Regions from separate parts of the Homo sapiens genome. Here region 1 is linked to region 2. Evidence: fine-mapped expression QTL. A gene starts in region 2. The other region holds a variant in brackets. All regions are shown on one strand. Distances are from middle to middle. Region 1 has its middle 13 kb from the start of C12orf76. Region 2 holds the start of TCHP (trichoplein keratin filament binding).

Evidence for each region. PIP is the estimated chance that this variant, and not a neighbour inherited with it, causes the effect.
Region 1: its variant is fine-mapped to the expression of TCHP in left ventricle (GTEx, PIP 0.93).

What each region holds. Positions count from the first base shown.
Region 1 is chr12:110,057,480-110,065,811 of GRCh38, reverse strand. It overlaps a transcript of C12orf76 not described here. Among named protein-coding and RNA genes, the nearest start is that of C12orf76, 13 kb to the right of the region's middle. RefSeq lists an enhancer at 1-19. The variant A/G (reference allele first, on the strand shown) is at 4,086.
Region 2 is chr12:109,896,474-109,904,760 of GRCh38, reverse strand. It overlaps TCHP (trichoplein keratin filament binding), which reads right to left and starts at 4,487. Exons shown (of 13, transcript NM_001143852.2): 1 at 4,335-4,487; 2 at 1,547-1,734; 3 at 614-824; 4 at 1-24. The coding sequence starts at 1,734. RefSeq lists enhancers at 3,083-3,923, 3,924-4,764 and a silencer at 4,157-4,266.

The DNA of each region.
Region 1 (8,332 bases), 160 kb before region 2:
TTGGAATTTGATTTTCAGTGCCATGGGAAGCCACTGAAAAGTATTATGCAGAGAAGTGAAACCATCTGACTCATGTTTCTAGAAGCTCTCATGGGCCACTGTGCAGAGCATAGAGTGTGGTGGGACCAGAATGACGGTGAGGGACCAGTGAGAAGGTTGCTGGAGTCACCAGATGCAAGGGATGGAGACTTGGGCTGGAATGGGATGGTGGAGCCAGAGAGATGTGGACAAAGCTGGGATGTGTTTTGGAGGCAGAACTGATGGATTTGCTAGGAGGTGAAGGATGGCTCCGGATTCCTGAGGGATTGATGATGCCTTTTACCAACTTGAGGAGAGATCAAGGAGTGGGCACGGTGGCTCACTCCAGTAATCCCGCACTTTGAGAGGCCAAGGCGGGCAGATCACCTGAGGTCAAGAGTTCGAGACCAGCCTGGCCAATGTCGCAAAACCCCGTCTCTACTAAAAATACAAAAATTAGCTGGGCGTGGTGGCAGGTGCCTGTAATCCCAGCTACTCGGGAGGCTGAGGCACAAAAATTGCTTGAATCCAGGAGGCGGAGGTTGCAGCGAGCCGAGATTGCACCACTGCACTCCAGCCTGGGTGATACAGCGAGACTCAGTCTCAAAAAAAAAAAATGTGTATATATATATATGCACATATACACACACACACATATATGTATACATATATAATAAAAATAATAATAAATAAATAAAGGATCTCAGGCAAGCAATTAAACACCGCCTACTACCATCTATCTTCATCCCTTTGTTCATGTCTAACACCAAAACACCCAAATAGCTGAAAGCACATTATCTCAAAAGATAAGCATGGTTTTTTCAAATGAATGGCTATAGCCTTATGAAAAGCTGCCTTGGTATCTGGTTTTCTTGTTTTGAGGGGCAAGGATGGAGGCTTCTCTCCTGCACCCACAGGCCACTGGGGATACCGCCCCAGCCCAGCCTCCCACCCTGCACTGGAGCCTCTCAGCCCTCCTGCTTGGGTAGCACAGTGTTGAGAAGAGGAAGGAGCAATTTGTCTGGCTTCTTCACAGGCCTGCAACTGGCGTGTACAGTGGCCGAGAAGGCGAGGCCAAGGTGGGGCTGGGGAAGCTAGCAGGGGTGAGATCGTGGAGCACCTTGAGCTGCATCTGGGGGGCACTGAGAAAGCATGGAGAGCTGTCCCCCCAAACCCCAGCATCTTAGTAGAAAATATTCAAACATACAGAAAACATGAAAGGTTTTACGCTATTTTCATTTTAAAGACATTATTTTGCTTGAAACATAACAGCTACTGAGTGCTGCTGAGGTCTTAGCATGTGCTGGGTTCCATTCTTAGCATGTGACATGTATTGGCCTATTTGATCCTCCTACATAATCCTATAATATTGGTTGTCGGAGTGGTTGATCATGACCTGAACGGCCACATGTTTGGGGAACTCTCTGTATTATGAGTTCCACTCCCTAATACATGTCACAACTGAATGTCCCAGGTTCCCTTGCAGCTAGGACACAGTATGAGACCCAAGCTTTCCAAAAATATGCCCCAGGCAACACTTCCATATACAAGGAATCACATGGGATGCTGGGTATGAGCAGAATTCAAATTCAGGAATAGAGGGAAGTATTGCCCTTTGACCCATACAATAGGGGATCCCTTTCCCTGGACCCCATGCCTTAAAGGGCCCCACTCTGTTCCTCTGCAGACTGCTAGCTCCCCTATGGAATGAGGATTGTCTGAGGCTGTATGAGTTTCTATTTGTTACACAGCGGTGGAAACTAACACAGTCCCACAGGCCTAAATCAAGGCATCAGCGGGCTGAGTTCTTGTCTGGAGACTCTGGGGAAAAGTCACTTCCAAGCTCATTGGTTTGTTTGTTTGTTTGTTCGTTTGTTTGTTTGTTTTGAGACAGAGTCTTGCTATGTTGCCCAGGCTGGACTGCAGTGGCGTGATCTTGGCTCACAGCAACCTCTGCCTCCTGGGTTCAGGCAATTCTCCTGTCTCAGCCTCCCAAGTAGCTGGAATTATAGGCACCCGTCATCATGCCTGGCTAATACTTGGGAGCCTGAGGCTGGAGAATCGCTTGAACCTGGGAGGCGGGCATTGCAGTGAGCTGAGATCACACCATTGCACTCCAGCCTGGGCAACAAGAGCAAAACTCGGTCTCAATAAATAAATAAATAAATAAATAAATAAATAAATAAATAAAAATAAAAATCCCTCACCAGGCGTGGTGGCTTATACCTGTAATCCCAGCACTTCGGGAGGCCAAGGCAGGTGGATCACTTGAGGTCCAGAGTTTGAGACCAGCCTGACCAACATGGTGAAACCCCATCTCTACTAAAAAAAAAAAATACAAAAATTAGCCAGGCGTAGTGGTAGGCACCTGTAATCCCAGCTACTCGGAGGCTGAGGCAGGAAAATCGCTTGACCCCGGGAGGCAGCAGTTGCAGTGAGCTGAGATTGCACCACTGCACCCCACCCTGGGTGATGAGAGCAAAACTTCGTCTCAAAACAATAAAAAATAAATAAAAATATTGAGACAATTTTAAAAATTAAATTAAAAAAGGGGGGCTGGGTGTGGTGGCTCATGCCTGTAACCCCAGCACTTTGGGAGGCTGAGGCGGGCGGATCACTTGAGGTCAGGAGTTCAAGACCAGCCTGGCCAACATGGTGAAACCCTGTGTCTACTAAAAATACAAAAATTAGCTGGGCGTGGTGGCAGGTGCATGTAATCCCAGCTACTCAGGCGCCTGAGGCAGGAGAATCACTTGAACCTGGGAGGCGGAGGTTGCAGTGAGCTGAGACATACCACTGCACTCCAGCCTGGGCAGCCAAGCGAGACTCTAAAAAAAAAATCTCTTTATTCAGCCCGCTGCAGGGGTTCACCCCTATAATCCCAGCACTTTGGGAGGCTGAGATGGGAGGATTGCTTGAGCCCAGGAGTTTGAGACCAGTTGAGAACAGCTGAGCAACAAATTGAGATCCCATCTCTAAAAAAAAAAAAAAAAAAAAAAAAAAAATATTAGCTGGGCATGGTGGTGCACACCTGTAGTTCCAGCTACTGGGGAGGCTGAGGTGGGAGGATCGCTTGATCCTGGGAAGTTGAGGCTGCAGTGAGTCGTGTTTATGCCACTAGACTCCAGCCTAGGCGACAGAGTGAGACCCTGTCTCAAAAAAAAAAAAAATCTCTTTTTTTCTATATTTTTCTCAACTTTATTGAGGTATAACTTACATATCATAAAATCACCCATTTTAAATACACATTTCAATGACTTTTAGTAAATTTACCAAGTTGTTCAACCATTACCGTGATCCAGTTTTAGAACATTTCATCAGCCTAGTAAGAGCCCTCATACCCATTAACAGTCACTCCCCACTCCCACTCTCTCCCCATGGTTGCTCAACCCAGGCAACCATGAATCTACTCTATGCCTCTATAGATTTGTCTTTCCTGGACAATCTTTCTTCTTAAATTCAGCAGAGTAAATTCTGTTGTTTAAAACTGGAAACCCTGCCGAATACAATACTAATATCTTCTTTTTTGGGAGATGGAGTCTCACTCAATCACTCAGGCTGGAGTGGAGTGGCACGATCTTGGCTCACTGCAACCTCTGCTTCCTGGGTTCAAACGATTCTCCTATCTCAGCTTCCTAAGTAGCTGGGATTACAGGCGTGCGCCACCACGCCCAGCTAATTTTTGTAGTTTTAGTAGAGAGGGGGTCTTACCACGTTGGCCAAACTGGTCTCGAACTCCTGACTTCAAATGATCCACCCACCTCGGCCTCCCAAAGTGCTGGGGTTACAGGCATGAGCCACCACGCTGGGCCCTAATATCCTCTTATTACAGAAGAAACAATGACTCAGAAAGGTTAAGTCACTTGTCCAAGGTCGTGTAGCCAGTAAGTGGTAGAGCTGAGATTGAACCTAAGCATCTCACACCATAGTCCATGCTCTCATTAAAGTATGCAGTGTAGGCTGGGAGTGGTGGCTCACACCTGTAATCCCAGCACTTTGGGAGGCTGAGGCGGGTGGATCACGAGGTCAGGAGTTCAAGGCCAGCCTGGCCAAGATGGTGAAACCCC[A/G]TCTCTACTAAAAACTACAAAAATTAGCTGAGCGTGGGGGCAGATGCCTGTAATCCCAGCTACTCAGGAGGCTGAGGCAGGAGAATCACTTGAACACAGGCAGCAGAGGTTGCGGTGAGCCAAGATCTTGCTGCTGCACTCCAGCCTGGGTGACAGAGTAAGACTCCGTTTCAAGAAAAAAAAAAAAAAAAGTATGCAGTGTGCAGTATAGAGAGTGGAGGGGACAGGGTAAGACTGGAGGAAAGGAGACCATTTAGGAGACCATTGGGTTGTCCAGATAGGAAAGCTGATGGTGACCTGGACTGAGGAGGTAGTAGAGGCAGAGGAGAGAAGTAGATGACTTCGAGCAATATTAGAAAGGTAAAACAGTAGGATTTGGCAACTGAATGGGTGAGGGGGAAAGAGGGAGAGAATGAGTCAAGGAGTGTGCCATGTTTCTGGCTTGGACAACTGATAGGTGCTGGAATAACTTGCTGGGATAGGAAATGCAGGAGAAAGAGCCAATTTGGGGTGGAAGATGAGGTCAGAACTGAAGGCATTGAGTTCGAAGTGTTCATGGAACATATGCATGTAGATGTTGAATAGGTGGTTGGATATATGAATCTGGAGCTGAGATGTAGGTTTCTTTTTTTTTTTTTTTTTTGAGTCAGAGTCTCTGGTCTCCCCCACAGAGCTGGCTCTGCATGAATTACTCTTCCTCTATTGCAATGAGCTAAGGGATATGAGGGCAGTTGTGCGATCTTAGCTCACTGCATCCTCCGCCTCCCGGGCTCAAGTGATTCTCCTGTCTCAGCCTCCTGAGTAGCTGGGATTACAGGTGCCCGCCACCACACCTGGCTAATTTTGTATTTTTAGTAGAGATTGGGTTTCACCATGTTGGGCAGGCTGGTCTTGAACTCCTGGCCTCAGGTGATCCGCCCACCTCAGCCTCCCAAAGTGCTGGGATTTCAGGCATGAACCACTGCGCCTGGCCTGAGATGTAGGTTTCTATATCACCAGCATATAGATGGGAACTAGAACCATGGAAGAAGCTGCAATTCACCAGCAAGAGAAGAAGTAGATGAGAAAGCAAGAGGGCCTAGAACCGACCCCGGAGAAGGGCTAACCTTTAAGGGGTGGGAGTGCTGAAGTCCCCAAAGGATTCTGAGAAGGAGTAGCCACAGAGATCCAATGAAAGTCAGGCAAAGGTGGATTCCTGCAAGCTAAGGGAAGGAGGTGAGGGAGGTGGGGCATGGTCACAGTGTCAACTGGTGCTGAGAGTTCCAGGAAGATCAGCTATGTGGTGTGTCTATTGGATTTAGTGACAATGACGTTGTTGTTTACTTGGCAAGAGAGGCTTTAGAGAAGGGATGGGGGTGGGAGCCAGACTGGAGTGGGCGGAGGAGTGAATGGAGATGCAGAAATGGATATGATGACTCACTCTTTCAGGGGACTTGGCTATGAAGAAGAGAGGCATGGAGTGGTGGTAAGAGAATGTGGGATTGAAGAGGGGGTATTTTGGAGACAGAGTTTCACTCTTGTTGCACAGGCTGGAGTGTAATGGGGTGATCTCGGCTCACCGCAACCTCCGCCTCTGGGGTTCAAGCTATTCTCCTGCCTCAGCTTTCTGAGTAGCTGGGAATACAGGCATGTGCCACCATGCCTGGCTAATTTTGTATTTTTAGTAGAGAAATGATGTTAAGTGCAGATGGAAAGGGGACAGGAGAGAAAGGGAAGTTGATGTGGTAAATGAAAATTATCTTCATCATCTTCCTCACCATCACCAGCAGTAACCACAAGGAAAGCTTGTTCTGCTCTGGGACTGCCCTGTCACTTTTCTTCCTGAGAAAATGAGCCAAAATCTTTCCCCCTGTAACTTTCACCTTTGCTTAGTTTTGCCTTGTGTCCCTCTTCAAATGGCTGCACACTGCTACTATGTCTCTCCTCTTCTTCAAACTCACAGCCTCCATCCTACAGGCCATGTGCTCTCAGCCTGGCGACCAGACCCTCAACTGTCTCAACCAAGTTCACACCGCTTGTTTGTCAAGCCCCTCTTAAGAGGCAGTGTACACACTCTTGCTTTGGTGATGGAAGCATGAAATGGTTCAAGCATTTATGATTTAGGAAAATAAACTCAGATAGAAAATGTGCACACCCTTTGACCCAGAAGTCCTGTATAGACTTAATGCCTTAGGTGTGTGAAGAAGCTTGTGCAGGGATTTCTGGCAACATGAATGTGGGGTGGACAGACAGTGAGCACAGTTGTTAGGAGCATAGCCTGAGTGCATTCTTCCTGAGATCAGGAACAGGACGAGGATGCCCGCTTTCACCGCTGCTGTTCAACATTGTACTGGAAGTTCTAGCCAGAGCAATTAGACAAGAAAAGCAATAAAAGGCATCCAGATGGCAAAGAATGAAGTAAAACTATCTTTAATCACAGATGGCACAATCCCATATATGGAGAATCCCGAAGAATTCACAAGAAAACTATTAGATAGAGCTAATTAACCAATTCAGTAAAGTCGCAAGGAACAAGATCAACACACAAAAATTAATTGTGTGTGTGCATTTTTTTTTACACCAGCAAGGAACATTTGAAAAGGAAATTGGAAAAATAATTCCATTTACCATAGCATTTAAGAGAGCTGAGGCTGTGGAGCCAGATGGCTGCGTTCAGAGCTGGCGCTGCTGTTTACCATGTGACCTTGGACAAGCTTCTCGCTTCATTCATACCACAGTTTGTTCGGCTATTAGGTGGAGGTAATACTAGCACCTTCCTTATAGAGTTGGTTTTTGTTTTCATTTTTTTGGTGGGGGGGAGTAAGAATTGCAAAAGTTAATATATGTCAGCAAAATAGACTTAGAAGAGTGGTTGGCACATGGTAAGGACATATTAGGGTTACCAAAAATTGTTTATAATTGGGAAAATTGAACAAAAGTTACAGTTAAATATCTATCCCAGAGACTGACTGGCAAATTATCACAATGTACCTCTTAGCTTGAGCCATATGGAACTGCCTGTATTCTATAGCTATGGCCTACAAAATGGGCAGTTCTTTCTTTCTTTTCTTTTTTTTGGAGAGAGAGTCTCACTCTGTTGCCCAGGCTGAAGTGCAGTGCAGTGGCATGATCTCGGCTCACTGCAACCTCCGCCTTCCAGGTTCAAGTGATTCTCCTGCCTCAGCCTCCCAAGTAGCTGGGATTACAAGCATGCACCACCACAACTGGATAATTTTTGCATTTTTAGTAGAGACAGGGTTTCCGCCATGTTGGCCAGCCTGGTCTTGAACTCCTGGCCTCAAGTGATCTGCCCGCCTTGGCCTCCCAAAGTGCTGGGATTACAGGCGTGAGGCACCATGACCTGCCAAAATGGGCAGTTTCATATATTCAATCACTAGGATACTCTTTAGCCACTGAAAATGATTGTGTATCATAGATCTATCTTTATCACAGATATCTTTACTGTCATAGAAAGAATTAATAACATATTATTGAGTAAAAATAGCAAGTTACAAAACAGCCTGCAGCCTGTAGTGTGGCCACGTTTGTAACATCAGTATATCTGTTTGTGTGTCTAGGTGTGGACATAAAGAGATATCTAGAAGACACTCAAAAGTTTCAACAATGATTGCCTGAGTGATTTGTGCTGGGATCTTCTTTTTTTTTTTTTTTTTTTTTTTTTGAGACCGAGTCTCTCTCTGTTGCTCAGGCTGGAGTTTGCAATGGCGTGATCTTGGCTCACTGCAATCCCCGCCTCATGGGTTCAAATGATTCTCCCACCTCAGCCTCCCGAGTAGCTGGGATTATAGGCGCCCACCACTGTGCCTGGCTAATTTTTGTATTTTTAGTAAAGACGGGGTTTTGCCATGTTGGGCAAGCTGGTCTCAAACTCCTGACCTCGAGTTATCCACCTGCCTTGGCCTCCCAAAGTGCTGGGATTACAGGCGTGAGTCACTGCGCCCAGCTGGGATCTTAATTTATATTTTTTCTTTTTAGCCCTTGATTTTTACCCTGTTAGACTGACTTTAGGAATCTAACCCCCAAAAGTGGAAAGGAATACATTAGTGTTGTTGAAAGCCACTAAGTTAGTGGTAATTTGTTACAGAAACTAATATAATTGGGATTTAACTTGCCTTGGGGGTGCTGGCTCTCCCCCATTTTCTTCTCAGAGCATCTCTTGGGTCCTCAACCCTTGCTGAGCCCCCACCATGGCCTAGAGGACCAGGGATGGACTTGATTAGATTCTCCTCTTGGGATTTTAAAAAAGA
Region 2 (8,287 bases):
TTCGTACAAAAGTTGTTCAGCAATCTATCAAGAAAACACAAAATGGAAAGCCTGATGTCATTTTTCAAATCCATTCACATTTTGGATGACACACAGTGGAAGTCAGCTCAGGCTATGAGTGCCTCCCTTCACACCGTCACTGCAACCACTGTTCAAACCCTCATGCTTCACATGCACAGCTCTGAGAACCACATGGCACTACCAAGTGACTCTTGCAATGATGACAAAAGGGGGCCAAAATCTGATGCTACACAGAGGTCCTATCTAGGGGGTCTCAAAATAATACAGCAGGCTGAAAAGCACAGATTAGGGCTCACTGTTTCACATAACTACTTTGGAAGGTAAAACAGACTAGTCCCAGATCTCTGTGGACCCACAGAACTGGAAGAAAGGAAAAGCACTCAGATGTAATGATTGAAGGGGCTAAAGAGACTACAGCTAACTGATCCAAAACCCAGTCCCTGCACAAGGACCTAAGCTCTTTTCCTGCTGGCTCTGGAGTTAACTGGCATCTCATCAGACCTGAGCACCCAGGAATGACCCTACATGTGCGACACACTCAGGCTGGGAACACTCCTGCTCCACAGCCTCCTGAAGCCCTCTGGGGAGTTACCAGTTTCCTCTGCTCTTCTTTGGCTGATTTCAGCTTCCCGTGCTGCTCCCGGATTCTTCTTTCCTGCAAGTTCATGCTCAGCCTCAGCTCCTCCAGTTCTCTGGCCAGCAGGTCCTGCTCCTCCTGCATGAGCTGCCTGAGCTTTTCCCGTCGGGCCTCCAGACTCCTCCTCTTCTCCTCCTTCATCTTCTCCCGCTGATAGGCATGCATGCTGGGTGAGAGGGGGCCTGCCTGAATCAATCATGCTACAGCCACAGGGAACGTGCTCTGCTCTGCTGTGTCGGTAAAAGAGGCTGAGGTAGATGTGTCATGACGACACAGGAATGTGTCCCCAGCCAAAGCAGAGACAGCAGGTCACAGAATAGTATGTGTAAGAGAAAATCTTGTTTTTTGCAAAAAGAAAATGTATAAATGTATAAATAATGTATATATTATCCATCACATAAATCCTACAGCATAGGTCTGCTGTAGCCCCACTTGATTGATGAGGAAACCAAAGCTCATACATTCAGCAAGAGACACGGTCAGGATTTCCATCTAGGTCTGACTTCAAAGCCTATGCTTTTGGCCTCCATGTTTTTACACGTATTTCTATAAAAGTAGCTTTGTGTGTGTATATTTAAGCACAAATACCAGTGGGAAACAGCATGGAAGGATATGTGCCAGACTGTTAACTGTGGCTGTCTCTGGGGATATGGGGTTACAACCAGGCTTCCAAATTCTATCATATGCTTCTGCATCATTTTATCTTTTTCAATGCCAATGTATGGCTGCACTGATGATCTTTTTTTCCATTTCCAGCTGGAAAAACATCACCATGCAGGTAATTCATACTGCCTGGCAAATCCTACGCTCCCTAAATCCTTAAGGCCTCATCCCCTGACCAGCAAGTGGTCCCCACTTCCATCCAATCGGCAGTTACCGCACAATTACCTCCGCTGGTAGGAGGTTTTAGAGCTCCATTCTGCCTGTTTGGAGCTGCAGATGTCAGACATCCTGAAGTAACGGCTGTTCTGCTCCCACTGCTGCCGAAGCCGGGCCTCCTGCTCTCGCTGTCGTGCTAGCTGCTGATTCAGGCGCTGCTGGCTGCACCAGTAGGACGGCAGCGTCGGGAGCGCCATCTGAGAACAGGAATGGGAGGAAAGTGAGCCACTGCAAATCCCAGGAACCCTCACCAGCTTGGCCTCATCCCTTTAACGAGTGGTCACCACCCCTTGGCTGCACAGTGAAATCAACTGGTGGAACTTTAAAACAAACAAACAAACAAAACCGTGTCTGAGCCCCACTCCAAACTAATTCAATCAAAAAACTTAGTAGGGCCCAGGCACCAGCATTTTTTAAAATGATCTGCCACTAGTGCTGCAAATCATCCTTTTAAATTTGCCGTGGCTCACGCCTGTAATCCCAGCACTTTGGGAGGCCAAGGTGGGCAGATCACGAGGTCAGGAGTTCGAGACCAGCTGCGCCAACATAGTGAAACCCCTGTCTCCACTAAAAATACAAAAAATTAGCCAGGCGTGCTGGTGGGCGTCTGTAATCCCAGCTCCTTGGGAGGCTGAGGCAGGAGAGTCACTTGAACCCAGGAGGTGGAGGTTGCAGTGAACCAAGATTGTCCCACTGCACTCCAGCCTAGGCGACAGTGCAAGACTCCATCTCAAAACACAACAAAACAAAACAAATAAACCTTAGCCAGACACAGTGGCTCATGCCTGTAATCCCAACACTTTGGGTGGCTGAGGCAGGAGGATCACTTGAGGCCGGGAGTTGGAGACCAGCCACATCATGAGACTCATCTCTATAAAAAATCAAAAATTAGCCAGGAGTGGTGGTGCGCCTGTAGTCCCAGCTACTCAGGAGGCTGAGGCAGGAGGATTGCTTGAGCCCAGGAGGTCACGGCTGTAGCGAGCCATGATAGCGCCACTGCACTCAGCCTGGGTGACAGTGAGACTCTGTCTCAAAAAAACAAAAACATAAAAAATTCTGGACTGCGTGCACCCAGCTGTGGGCCAGCCATCACCAGGAACACAACAGACAGACACAGGGATTGTCCTAAGATTGCTAGACTAGGCACATCGGGGGCATTTATGCTGTGCTTAAACAGAGACAATAATGTAAGGAACACATGTATGTGCCAAGCACTCAATACATATGACTTTTTTTCATTCTTACAATCACCTCGCTATTTGGCAGGTAAGGAAACTTACGTTGAAGAGGTAAAGTTGTTGTACCCGAGCGAGTTAGAGAAACGCCACAGTTTGAGACGAAATTAAGAGTCCTTTATTTAGCCAGTGCCCAAGAGACGGCTAATAAATTCTCTTGGCCCGAGGAAGGGGCTTGATTTTCCTTTATACTTTGGTTTAGGAAGGGGAGGGGAGCTCAGATGCAACAATTCTACATAAGTAAAAACATGCAAAAATTAAAAGGACAAAGAGTCACAGAGAAACAATTAAAAGACAAATGGTTACAGAGAAACAACAGTTCCAGGTGCAGGGGCTCTAAATCTTTCATAAAATGTTAGATATGGGTGCTCTGCCCGACACCAACTCAAGGTTTTATGGTGTTATCTTTTGAGCAAAATCCTGGGAACTTCGTACATTGCTTGTTTCAGTACCTTATCAGTTAATTGGACTCTTTGATATGTTGAGATTCTGCTTACACAAGTTAACTCCTTGAGGAAAGGGGTGGGTAAGGAGTCCTTGATGTCTTGTAAATGAGGGAACCAGATGGAGTTCATCCGGCTTTCTCAACTAAGGGAGAGCTAATTCATGTGGAAACAAGGCTAGGTGATTAAGGGGAAAAAAAGAGTCTAAAAGCAAGGTTAGTAAAAACAAGGTAAGGCATTAAAAAACAAGGTTAGTAAAAACAACGTTAAGCATTACAAAGTGATTTGCTCAGGATCACAGAGCCAGGAAGTAAAGGAGATAAACAAGCTGGGTTCCTAATTCATGTCCGTCTGAGACCAGAGCCCAGGCTCTCTCTGCTGCAAGGGGCTGCCTGTTGGGACCAACCTGCCCTGGCTCTGGCAGTCCCCGGGGAGGGGACTGATAATAACACTCGGAAGTATGTTGGGCTACCATGGAGGACAGACCTTTCATCTTGCAGATGAAGAAGCTGAGACCTAGAGAGAGGAATTGCCTGAGCAATGTAGGGATACAGCTGGAGCCTTGAAAGCAGAGAGCAGTCTCACTCCAGGCACCAATTCCCCTGACCCAAAAGCTGTCCTCAAGTGTAGGGTCGATGCAGTGCCTGGGTAGGAACGCCGGCTGAATGAGCGAAAAGGCCTGGTGCACGCCAAGAATCTCATTCTGGAGGTCCTCCAGTTTTGGGGGCAAACACTCTGCGTCTATGGTCCAAATGTAGCCGGCAGGCTGCTAACGTGTGACCTCGGTCTCGAGACCGTGGCAAGCTTCACATACTTTTTTCCCGCTCCCGTAAAGCCGCCAGTGGATCAGTCTTTGCACCAAGAGTTAAAAGTTTAAGATTCCCGTCCCGGATTGGCCACCCACAAGGTGGGCTGCTCCCCGAACACGTCGCATCCCTCTCTCGACCTGAACATGCACGTGCAACAAATGGGGTCACAGCGCGTGGGGAGCGCAGTGAGGACCCCGGAGGCGCCCTGAGCTCGCGCCCGCTGACTGCCGCCCCGGTTCCCGCCCGCGCGGGCCGCCTGCGGGCCCCCGCCCTAACGCCGGATCCGGCCTAGTCCAACCCTCCGACTCACATTTCTCTGAGGCTCGGAGTTTCCGAAGAGTCCCCCGGCCCGACTTCCCGCAGGCACGAAGCGGGCCGGCCAGTCCCCCGGTGTAATTCCCAGACGCGCTACAGCAACGCCGGCTGTTTCCTCCCTGTTTGCACCGGCAACGAGCCCGACGACGGAGCGTCGCAAGGGCCAAGCCTCCTTCAGCGCGTAGGGAGCCTGTGTTTTTCTCTGGTGCCCCGTCGTGGCCAGCGGGAGATAAATAGCAAACGTCGCTGCTCCTTGAAATAGGGAAGCATGGAGGCAAAGAATCCGTCCATGCACTACACGTATTTCAGGATGGTGGTTACCATCACGTGAAGGTGAAGGTGGAAACCAGGGGGAAGAGAATGTAAGTCAGTGGTCCTCAAACCTGGCTGCGCGTGAGAATCACCAGATACCAGCCTGGGCAACACAGAGGGACTCCTGTCTCTAAAAAATTTTTTAAACTTAACCGGGCATGGTGGGACTTGTGGTCCCAGCTACTCGGGAGACTGAGGCGGGAGGATCAGTTGAGCCCAGGAGATCGAGGCTGCCGTGAGCCATGACTGTGCCACTGCACTCCAGCCTGGGTGACAGAGCCAGACACTGTCTCAAAAAAAAGAAGAAAAAATCCAGATACCTTTAAAAAATCCAGATGCCCAAACCAAACCCCAAATCCCATCTGAGAGTATCAGTGTTTTCCAAAATTCCCCAGGTGTGTTCAATGTACAACTTGGGCAGAGGCCTGCTGGCATAAGTAGATGGAAGTTATTGGTAACTTTTTTATTTTTTTGAGACAGAGTCTTGCTCTGTCGCCAGGCTGGAGTGCAGTGGCGTGATCTCGATTCACTGCAACCTCCGCCTTACGGGTTCAAGCGATTACCCTGCCTCAGCCTACCGAGTAGCTGAGACTACAGGCGCACGCCACCACGCCCAGCTAATTTTTTGTATTTTAGTAGAGATGGGGTTTCACCATATTGGTCAGGATGGTCTCGATCTCCTGACCTCGTGATGCGCCTGCCTCAGGCTCCCAAAGTGCTAGGATTACAGGAGTGAGCCACTGCACCCGGCCGATAACTTTCTATTATAGTCTTATATTGGTGGTGAGTTCAAAAGTGTTCATTCTATTAGTATGTTTTATAACTCGTGTGCTACAAGTATTACATGCCAACTATTCCATTAAAAAGAAAATGAAGAAAAATACTTGTTTGTTCTCTTTTCTTTCATTTTCCCATTCTTTCATTTCTTCTTCCCTTCATTTCTCCATTCTTTATTCATCTCTGTTTTTCCTGGATGCAGCATCATGGCCTCAGCTGGGTTCAGTGGCTTACGCCTGTAATCCCAGCACTTTGGGAGGCCCAGGAGGGTGGATTACCTGAGGTCAGGAGTTGAAGACCAGCCTGGCCAACATGATGAAACCCCGTCTCTGCTAAAAATACAAAAATTAGCCGGGCATGATGGCAGATGCTTATACTCCCAGCTACTCGGGAGGCTGAGGCAGGAGAATCGCTTGAACCTGGGAGGCAGAGGTTGCAGTGAGCCAAGATTGCGCTGCTGCACTCCAGCCTGGGTGACAAAGTGAGACTCCACCTCCAAATTAAATAAATAAATGAATACATAAATAAATAAATAAAATTAGCAGGCTGTGGTGGTGCACACCTATAGTCCTAGCAACTTGGGAGGCTGAGGTGGGAGGATCACTTGAGCTCAGGACAAGGAGGCTGCAGTGAGCCGTGATCACACCATTGCACTCCAGCCTGAGTGACAGAGTGAGACCCTGTCTCAAAACATGGTCTCTACAGTCAGAACGCCCAGGTTTCAAGCTATACCATGCTGGTGTAGTCTTGGGCAGGTCACTTCATCTGTCTGTGCCTCAGCTTCCTAGTCCATGGAATGAGAGTAAAAATAGAGCAACTTTCAGGCCGGGCCTGGTGGCTCATGCCTGTAATCCCAGCACTTTGGGAGGCCAAGGCTGGCGGATCTCTTGAGGTCAGGAGCTTCAGACCAGCCTGGCCACATGGTGAAACCCCCGTCTCTACTAAAAATATAAAAATTAGCTGGGCGTGGTGGCAGGCACCTGTAGTCCCAGCTACTCGGGAGGCCGAGGCAGGAGAATCGCCTCAACCGAGGAGACGGGGGTTGCAGTGAGCCAAGATCATGCCACTGCACTCTAGCCTGGGCAACAGAGCAAGACTCTGTCTCAAAAAACAAAGCAAAACAAAAAATAGTGCAGCTTTCTAGGGTTGCCCGTGTGAGAATAAATGGAGCATGCCCAGGAGTAGAGCATCCAGTGCATCCCAGGTGAGCCCAAACTTGAGCCTTCCTTCACATCCCCCTTTAGTTGGCACCTGTTTAATCAGGGTCTGTCCCACTGCGTGCATAAGAGTCCTCAAGTTTCCCTCCCATTAATCCCTACCCCCTTGGGCAAATTCATGGCCACTCTTTCATGTTGTGTCCCCAGTGCAGAGGGGTGGCAGCAGCCCACTGCAGTCACTTAGCAGAGATGCCCACCCAACAAAGGAGACCAACACATAAATGTCTGTCGACAGGAACTTCATAAACACATGAATTGGACCAGGCGTGGTGGCTCACGCCTGTAATCCTAGTATTTTGGGAGGCTGAGGCAGGTGGATCATTTGAGGTCAGGAGTTCGATACCAGCCTGGCCAACGTGGCGAAACCTTGTCTCTACTAAAAATACAAAAATTAGCCAGGTGTGGTGGCATGCACTTGTAATCCCAGCTCGGGAGGCTGAGGCATGAGAATCACTTGAACCCAGGTGGCAGAGGTTGCAGTGAGCCGAGATCTGACCGCTGAACTCCAGCCTGGGCAACAGAGGGAGTCCCTGTCTCAAAAAAAAAAAAGAAAGAAAGAAAGAAAAGAAAAGAAAAAGAAATATGTGAGTTGGGGCAAGGTAAGGGAGACCTGATCCTGATTTTGTGCCTCTTGGGCAAGGCCTTTCCACTCTCTGGGCCTCAGTTTCCTCATCTGTATAATGACCAGATAAGCTCCACTAGCAGAACTTTAGGGCTTAGGGCTCGACCAGCATGCCGGAGGGCAACCATTCCTAAGTGGCCTGATCCTGGAAGCCTGAAGTCCCCAGATTACAGCCTCCATTCTCTTTTGCTGGCCAGACATCCTCACCGGCCCCCACAGTTCAACTCTGAACCTCTTGATTACACAGCTGCTGGCTGTCGCTATTAAGCAACTTTACAAGTGCCTTTTCCTTTGCTCCTCTTGGGCATTCTATGAGATATCTTATTGCCCCCATGTTAGAATTGCCTAAACTAAGCCTCGAAAAGGTGGCATGGCTTGCCTGAGGAGCCGCAGCTGATAGGTGGTTGAGCCATGATTTGAAACCAGTTCTGCCTGATCCCAGTGCCTAAGCCCTCTTGCTGCAACACAAGAGCAGGGATCATCGTGTTCCTTGCTGCATTCCCCATGCCATGCCTTGTATGTGGTAAGCACTCTATCTATCTATCTATATATCTATATCTATCTATATATATATTTGAGACAGAGTCTCACTCTATCACCCAGGCTGATGGAGTGCAGTGGTGCGAACTTGGCTCACTGCAGCCTCTGCCTCCCAGGTTCAAGCAATTCTCTTGCCTCAGCCTCTTAAGTAGCTGGGATTACAGGTGCCCGCCACCACGTCCGGCTAATTTTTGTATTTTTTTTCAGTAGAGTTGGGGTTTTGCCATGTTGCCCAGGCTGGTCTTGAACTCCTGACCTCAGGCATCAACCTCCCAAAGCGCTGGGATTACAGGCATGAACCACCATGCCCGGCCTCAATCAATATTTGTGTTGAGAATGAAAAAGTGAATGGATCCCCTATTTTGAGTACTTTCTTCTCCTCCAAAGGAAAAAGGAATCTATGGTGTTAAGAGAAAGCAAAAAGAAGAAAAGGAACGAGCATTTCTTGAACACCTGCTATGTGCCAGGTGCTTTGAGATA